Linked DNA regions of Homo sapiens: region 1 is linked to region 2. The links come from fine-mapping of genetic effects on gene expression. A gene starts in region 2. The other region holds a variant in brackets. All regions are shown on one strand. Distances are between the middles of the regions. Region 1 has its middle 8.2 kb from the start of AGBL1. Region 2 holds the start of LINC01584 (long intergenic non-protein coding RNA 1584).

What was found. PIP is the estimated chance that this variant, and not a neighbour inherited with it, causes the effect. A credible set is the group of variants that fine-mapping cannot tell apart.
Region 1: its variant is the best candidate, but not a certain one, in a credible set for the expression of LINC01584 in testis (GTEx, PIP 0.53).

What each region holds. Positions count from the first base shown.
Region 1 is chr15:86,069,485-86,073,890 of GRCh38, forward strand. No RefSeq gene overlaps it. Among named protein-coding and RNA genes, the nearest start is that of AGBL1, 8.2 kb to the right of the region's middle. The variant A/G (reference allele first, on the strand shown) is at 2,482.
Region 2 is chr15:86,114,212-86,118,617 of GRCh38, forward strand. It overlaps LINC01584 (long intergenic non-protein coding RNA 1584), which reads right to left and starts at 2,506. Exons shown (of 6, transcript NR_120368.1): 1 at 2,404-2,506. All of the region lies in intron 1 of AGBL1 (AGBL carboxypeptidase 1), which reads left to right.

The DNA.
Region 1 (4,406 bases), 45 kb before region 2:
ATGACTAAGTGTAAGACACAGATAAATGTAAAGTAAAGGATGCAAAAAGATGTAGCATGTAAACCATAAGCATAATAAATTTGGAGTGACTATATTAACATCAGACAGAATAGACTTTAAGACAAAAGTATTACCAAAGACATAGAGGGACATTTCATTATGATAAAAGTTTTAATTCATTAGGAGGACATAGAAATTGTAAATGTGTACTTGCCTAATAACAGAACTTTAAAATACATGAAGCCTAAACTGACAACTAAAGGGAGAGAGAGACAAATCCCATAATCATAAGACAGAAGATCTCAACAAGGCTGTCAACCACTCTCTTAGTCCATTCAGGTTGCTATAACAAAAATGCCCCATGGATTGTATAGCTTAAGTAACAAATACTTATTACTCATAGTTCTGAAGGCTGGTAGGTCCAAGATCAAGGTTTTGGGAGAGTCATTCCCTTGTGGTGGCCCTCTTCCTGGTTCATAGACAGCTATCTTTTTAATGTGTCTTTTTTAAAATTTCTTTCTTTCTTTTTTATTATACTTTAAGTTTTAGGGTACATGTGCACAACATGCAGATTAGTTACATATGTATACATGTGCCATATTGGTGTGCTGCACCCATTAACTCATCATTTAACATTAGGTATATCTCCTAATGCTATCCCTCCACCATCCCCCACCCCACAACAGTCCCCGGTGTGTGATGTTCCCCTTCCTGTGTCCATGTGTTCTCATTGTTCAATTCCCACCTATGAGTGAGAACATGTGGTGTTTGGTTTTCTGTCCTTGCGATAGTTTGCTGAGAATGATGGTTTCCAGCTTCATCCATGTCCCTACAAAGGACATGAACTCATCATTTTTTATGGCTGCATAGTATTCCATGGTGTATATGTGCCACATTTTCTTAATCCAGTCTATCGTTGTTGGACATTTGGGTTGGTTCCAGGTCTTTGCTACTGTGAATAGTGCCGCAATAAAAATATGTGTGCATGTATCTCTATAGCAGCATGATTTATAATCCTTTGGGTACATACCCTGTAATGGGATGGCTGGGTCAAATGGTATTTCTAGTTCTAGATCCCTGAGGAATTGCCACACTGACTTCCACAATGGTTGAACTAGTTTACTGTCCCACCAACAGTGTAAAAGTGTTCCTATTTCTCCATATCCTCTCCAGCTCCTGTTGCTTCCTGAGTTTTTAATGATCGCCATTCTAACTGGTGGGAGATGGTATCTCTTTGTGGTTTTGATTTGTATTTCTCTGATGGCCAGTGATGATGAGCATTTTTTCATGTGTCTGTTGGCTGCATAAATGTCTTCTTTTGGGAAGTGTCTGTTCATATCCTTCGCCCACTTTTTGATGGGGTTGTTTGTTTTTTTCTTGTAAATTTGTTTGAGTTCATTGTAGATTCTGGATATTAGCCCTTTGTCAGATGAGTAGATTGCAAAAATTTTCTCCCATTCCGTAGGTTGCCTGTTCACTCTGATGGTAGTTTCTTTTGCTGTGCAGAAGCTCTTTAGTTTAATTAGATCCCATTTGTCAATTTTGGCTTTTGTTGCTATTGCTTTTGGTGTTTTAGACATGAAGTCCTTGCCCATGCCTATGTCCTGAATGGTATTGCCTAGGTTTTCTCCTAGGGTTTTTATGATTTTAGGTCTAACATTTAAGTCTTTAATCCATCTTGAATTAATTTTTGTATAAGGTGTAAGGAAGGGATCCAGTTTCAGCTTTCTACATATGGCTAGCCAGTTTTCCCAGCACCATTTATTAAATAGGGAATCGTTTCCCCATTTCTTGTTTTTGTCAGGTTTACTGTGTCTTTATATGAAAAAGGGATGAGGGAGATAACTGGGCTGTCTTCTATAAGAGCCCTGATTCCATTCACGAAGGCTCTGCCTTCATGGCCTAATCACCTCCCAAAGGCCCCAACTCCTACTGCCATCATATTAGGGATTAAGATTTCAATGCAAATTTTGGAGGTATACAAACATCTAATCCATTGCAACTGCTTTGATATGATTGACAATTATAGTATGTTACATCCAGCAGCTCAGAACCTACATTCTTTTTTATTTACACATTTAATTTTCTTTAAGATTAACTATATGCTGGGTCAAAAATGAAGTCTCAGTAAATTTCAAATGACAGAAATCTTCCAATATTTAGAATATGTTCTTTGTCCGTAATGGAATTAAACTGAAGATTAATGAAAGGAACTCTGGTGCCATGGTTTGGAAGTTTGATCCTTCCAAATCTCATGCTCAAATTTAATCCCCAGTGTGGTAGTGTTTGGAGATGGGGCCTAGTGGGAAGTGTTGGGGTCATGGGGGTGGATCCCTCATAAATGGATCAATGCCCTCCCTGAAGCAGGAGAGTGAGTGAGTTCTCACTCTATTAGTTCCTGTGAGAGCTGGTTGTTAAAAAGAGCCTGGCACCTCCCCTATCTCTCTCTTCTTCTTTTACCACATGGTCTCTACATACACT[A/G]GCTCCCCTTTGCCTTTCACCATAAGTGGAAGCAGCCTGAAGCCCTCACCAGAAGCAAATGCTTCTTGTACAGCCTTTAGAACTATGAGCCAAATAAACCTCTTTTCTTTATACATTTCCCAGCTTCAGGCATTCCTTTAAAGCAACACTGAATGGACCAAGACATCTGGCAAAGTCCCAATATCTGCATATTTATAAAACACATGTTTAAATACCCCATGTGTCAAACATTGGAAGATGTTTTCAGCTAAATGATAATGAACACACATGAAAAGTTGTGGGACTCAGCAAAGGCAGTACATAGAGGGAAGTTTATAGCTTTATACGCTTATATTAGAAGAGAAGAAAAATTTAAGATTGGTAATCTAAATTTGTGCCTTAAGAAGTTAGAAAGATAGAAACAACTTAAATCCAGAATAAGTAGAAAGGACATAATAAAGAGCAGATATTAATGAAGTAAAGAAATCGATAAACAATAGAGACTAGTCCAGAACCAATTACCCTTCTCGTATTCTCTGATAGAAATAATTCAATTAAACTAATGAAACCATTTCTATAAACATTATAGAATTTATCAGGAAAGATGGGAGGGGGAGAAATGAAAATAAACCAAACTTGCAGCGCACTCAGCATTTACTAGCTCAGCTTATTCTCTCTGACTTGCTTCCTTATAGTTGTTTGCTGTCTGCCACCCCGGAATCATGGAAATCCTGACACAAGATTATAGTTCCCCTTAACTGCTCTGTAGATAACAACTTAATTATTGTGAAACATTAAGTTTTCCCTTTGAGATATTCTTTCTGGTCATGCATGTCAGTGAAACTACTGATGCTAGCTGGTCTGAAAGACCCCAGAAGGAACTGACTCATCAAAGAAGGCAGTTTCCACATTCTGATGATTTCTTCCCCCTTACCCAAACCAATCAATGCCCCTAATTTTCCAGCCCCTCACCCTCCATGATCCGCTTAGAAACCTCAACCCAGAACTCCTCAGGGAGACAGATTTGAGGGTCTCCTCACATCTCCTCACCCATCTGCCCTGTGATCATTCAACTCTTCTTCTGCTGCACACCTGGCTGTCTCAATGTGTTGGTCGTTTACTTCACAGCAGGCATAGGAACCTGTTGGTCCTGGAATGCTAATATGTATTTCCTCCTGGGACCAGTGATCCCTTTTGTGGTAATAATACTTTTTTGGGATTCTGGAATAACTTAAGTCTGTGTGAAAAGTTTGGAAGATTTTTAAAAAATGCTTTATTATATTTTTCTGCCAGAAAATACAATTTACATATAAACGAGCAATATGGTCCTTGATCCCATCTAAAAAGTTTGCATTTGAAAGCAAGGCTTCCATAGTTCACAAGAAACTCCTTGTGAGACCACAGCCTCACACAATCTTCTCCCTGTATGAACTCATCCTAATTATAACCCTTATCACTCCACACTAGAGGTCAAAGGGGTAGGAGGTTTGGGTGGTGGTGGTGTGTGGTTGGGTTGGGGCAGGTGAGCACTACTGAGAGAAGGAGGATAAATCAACTGCCACTGAAACCTCCCCTCACTGTTCTAGGCGTTCCCCTTTGTGTGACTTTTGTATTCTACCACTTCCCATAGGTCCTGAAGGATGTGGGCTTTGCTTCACATCAACCAGGAGGAGGAGAAAAACCTTCCAAGACAGTGAAGGAGAATAAGTTATCACCTGGACACCTGTTTAATAGACCAGGATTTGTAGATAAGAAAAGGCAGGGTGATGAGCTTTCTGAATCTTGGACAAGTATGACTAAGACTCTGATAATTAAGCTGGGGGAGTGGTGGTCAAGAATGTTCTCCCAACACCAAGGGAAGCCTTCCTATTATTATTGGACCTCAAAGTTATGCCAGAAATGATTGAATTGTAACATTTAGCAAGAATTATTGTTCACCTGTTTTG
Region 2 (4,406 bases):
TATTAAGATGATGTTATATTTAAAATCTGCAACTGGCTATTTGATAGTGGCTCTGTGTCTTCAGCCTTGGACCCTTGGGGGAGGTGAGTCTGCACTCTGCCTTGGCAAGGAGTCCAGAAGGAAGAACTCAGAGGTGTCACTTCCAACTGAACTTGTGGGAGGTGGCCTGCGTCTTCTACTCTGGTCTGCTTGTGTGTGCCTGTCTGCAGAAGACATTCTCTGTTGCAGATCTAGTGGGACTCCTAGAGCGCCCTGCATTTGTGAAAAACAATAGGAACTTAGCTCCTTATGGCCCAAATGCTGACTCAATATCAATATGATGTAGATATTGTACTTCCATGATGGGAGTCCCTTTCCAAGATTTTAACCTCTAAAACAAAAAGAAGTTTGGGAGATTCCAGGAAGGGTCTTTTTTTCACCGATGTCACAATTCCATGCATATGAATCCTGTTGAAGTTGTAGGCCTTGCTGGCTTAAGGGTTCCACATAGCAGAATGTGGCCGATAAAACAACTGTATGCTAGCTGAGCTTGGTGCAAATGACAACCCACACCATGCTTGCCCACTTCAGAACTGTTTGCATGCATGGGACAATTCGTATCCTATAACGAGATGCTGAGGTCCAACGCTACAAGTCTGTTTCTCAGTGAATTCACTTGGAGCCTCGTTCTGATGAGATTCACTGTCAGAGTAGCCTGAGCTGTCAGTGAATTTGACTCTTTTGTTAGAATGTCTTTATTGAACTTCATGATAGGCTCTCATGTGAAAAGGGCTGAAAAAATTGTGGCTGCTAGTGGTGCTAACTGTTCACCACTGGGTTATGGATAAACACTGCCTGGCACCTCAAGTAAGGAAGACCTGAGGTAATATCTTGACTGCTAAAAAATAGCTACTGGGATCTCAAAATGACACAATGAGACCACTTTTGTTTTCCTAAAAATATCCCTCTTGAAGGATGTTTGAGCCATCTAGGTAGCATTGTGACATCCATCTTGCTTCCAGTCCCATGATGCAGGGGAGTACCATAAAGTCACAGTGGTGGATTGTGACTGTGAAGATGAAATTTTGACAGCAACATCCACTTTATTCTAGTCTAGACCTGCCTGGTAAAAAGCAGTACCACTAGGTTGTGCTAGAGTATAAACATAGCACGATGTGCATTTCCTGGCAAATCTTTACTTTATTGGCTATTTCTTTCTTTCTTTTTCTTAAGAAAAAAAATTATCTGTTCTCTGTAACTTAGAAGAACATATCAGAAATATCATTGTGATCACTGTTGTTTGAAAAGAAGGGCCTTTGAATGACAATATTGTGATTTTTGTAAAGGCCGGAGGTAGTGAAATGCTCAGAATTATTTATACTTACTCCCAGATACCGCTTAGTCACCTTCCAACATCTGGTGCTCTGGGATGAGGACTACTGCTCCTCTTCAGTCTTCTCATTGGTGCCTCATTTTCTGTCTGACTTGTCAGCACTGGAAAGCTCAAGGCTATCTCTCGGGTTCTCTTTCTTCTCTTCTCTGTGTACTTTCCTAGGGCATCTTCCTCAGTCACATACCATGTGTATGTTAAGGGCAATGATGCCCCAGCTATATCTCTGGTCCTGACTTTTCCATGAAACTCCAGACTCATCTCTCCAGGATGACCAAACATTTCAGCCTTCTGGGACAGCTCTGCTTTATACCTACTCTCCTGTTATAATTATTAGTAGGGCTCATTTCTCTCTCAGAAGATTTCAGTCATGTCATCCTATACATGAGGTTGGTATTTAAGTCAGATCATGTCACTTTTCCAACTAAAATTCTCTTATAGGAAGGAAAGTAAATAATTGAGAACAATAATAAAATTGACTGTATCACTAAAATAGGCAGGGAACCTAGAATTTATTGAGTGCCATTGTGCTATGTTATTTGCATTTGTTCTCTCATTTAATTTAAAATTCATCTCAACTCTGTTTTGTGAGTATTGCTCTAGGTGATTTCAGCTACAGCAAAACACAACCAACCAACCAATCGAGAACAAAAATGTAAGGCTCAGAAAGATTAAAATAACTTGCTTAGGATTACACAGCCAGTAAAGTATTAGAGCTGGGTTTGAATCTTAGTTCTCTCTAGTGCTAAAGCTGAAGGATTATGTGTTTGTTTTTTTCCAATTACTTTGTTGATGTGATGGCTAATGTGTCAGCTTGAGTGGGCTAAGGGATGCCCAGGTAGCTGGTAAAGCATTATTTCTGGCAGGGTGTTTCTGGGAGAGATGAGCATTGGTTCAGTAGGCTGAGTAGAGAAGATCCACTTTCATCATTGTGGGTGGGCATAGTCTAATCTGTTGTGGGCCCGAATACAACACAAAGACAGAGGAATGATGAACTTACTCTCTCTTCTTGAGCTGGGACATTGGACACTTACTCTCTCTTCTTGACCATCTCTTGGTTCTCTGGCCTTCACACTATGGGACTTACACAAGCAGAGCAACCCCTACCCCTGATACCTCAGGTCTTCACACTCAACTAGGAGTTACACAGTCAGCTTCCCTGGTTCTTAGAACTTTGGACTTAGACTGAATTCTATTGGGTTCTCTAGGTTGCAGATGACAGGTCATGGGACTTCTCACCTCCATAATTACATGAGCCAATTATCACAATAAATCTCTCTCACTGGTTCTGATTCTCAAGACAACCCTAATACAGTTGGTAACCAAGCATCTTTCTTCATCTGGCCTCAGAAACACCTTTCTTTTCTTTTCTTTTTTTTTTTTTTTAACATGTTTTCGTGTTACTTAGGCCAGTTGCTTAGTGATCTATCAATGGTCATCATCAAAGTCTTGTTGAAGAGTTTTCCTGTGTGATTGTATTCATTAGAATTAGATTTGGCTATGGCTCATGGGAACTAAAATCACTATTTTATTCCTTTTTACATAAAGAAATCTGGAGGTGAGTGTTCTGGGGGTCCACACTCATGGCTCTGGTTTCCCTCCATCCTGATGTGATGCATGATTACCTGCCTTGAGAACACCCCGGGCTCTGGGATGGCTGCTGGGAATCCCCGCTAAAATTGGTCTGTTACTAAGGAAAATGGGGAGAAACCGGCAGTCTGCTCTCCTGACCAACTTTTTTTTCCCTTTATTTCTCAGTATTTGAGAATTTGTTTTTCAGAAGAAGTCTGAGTGTGTAAGGAATAAAGCCTAAAATGAGGTCTATTTGGCATCTGATTGACCTACCTGTAATTTCCAATTTTCCCTGTGTGACTATTGTGTTGAGCAAGTTTTGTAACTTCTATGACCTAGATACTTTACACAATTATCTCATTTAATTCTCACTAAAGACTCCAAAGTAAGAATTATCTCTATTTCACAGATGAGGAAACCAAGGCTCAGAATGTGTTTTTAGTGCATATCAAGCAATGTATAATGTGCAATGATTAACACTTCACGTGTGCACAAGAGGTATTCAAAACTCTTCTTGACCTGTTTTAATCAAAAGTTTCCCTCCTGATCATCAAATGGGACACGTCATCCTTCATATTTTTTCTTTTTCTGGGTTTTCACAGAAAAAGTAACAACAACAACTAAGCTTAATGTAATTAGAGATGATAGAAGAACATCATGGTTTTAACAAATTCACATGCCTGAAATCCAACCCCAGGACCTGTGATTTGGTGATTTGGATTGGTGCGGGAATCTGTAGTTTAGAAAGGTTATGTGTAACTCCATTAGTGAGCTTCTGGCACAAGAAGAATAACTGTCAAGACTTGCTCTGCGGATCTTAGTTTGGTATCTTCTTGATTTGAAAAGTCTCTGCTTATTCCAGTGTTTGTGCTGTCACATTAAACTGCTATCTCTGAATTTCTTGTTACACTGACATTGTTACCGTTCTCCTGGGTGTCAATATAATGTTTCTACTCAGAAAATCTCTCTTTCAAGAGATGGCCCTCACCTTTTCCCAGGTGGACTCAGTTCCATTTTTAAAGGTGCTGCCAAGGGCTTTAAAAGCAAACTCTCATTTGAGGTGCTGGGGAGCCCTAGTTCATCTTGTCTTTCTCCCTTTGCTTCTCTCTGGAGTAAAGGCTGGCAGAGGAGAATGAGAATAAAATTATTAAAAGTCCAAATTGGCAGGTAGGATTTCAAAGAACAAAATTAATTGTATTCAAGACACGTCTCCCCTCTGTTTATGCTCACAAAATGCTGTCTTTGCAAGAACTCTGCAGCACCACGTACACTGTTGGCCCTCTGCGAATCAGCACCAATGACAACATTATAATTACACTTCAAAAAAAAAAAAGGCAATGAGAAGTTGCATCTTAAATTTCCTTTATTTGGTTGCTCTAGGAGCTTCTGTTTGAGTACAGCATTGGAGAGCAGGTGCAGAGGTTAAAAATATGCTCATAAAAATCTAGAACCCAGTGTCTTTTTG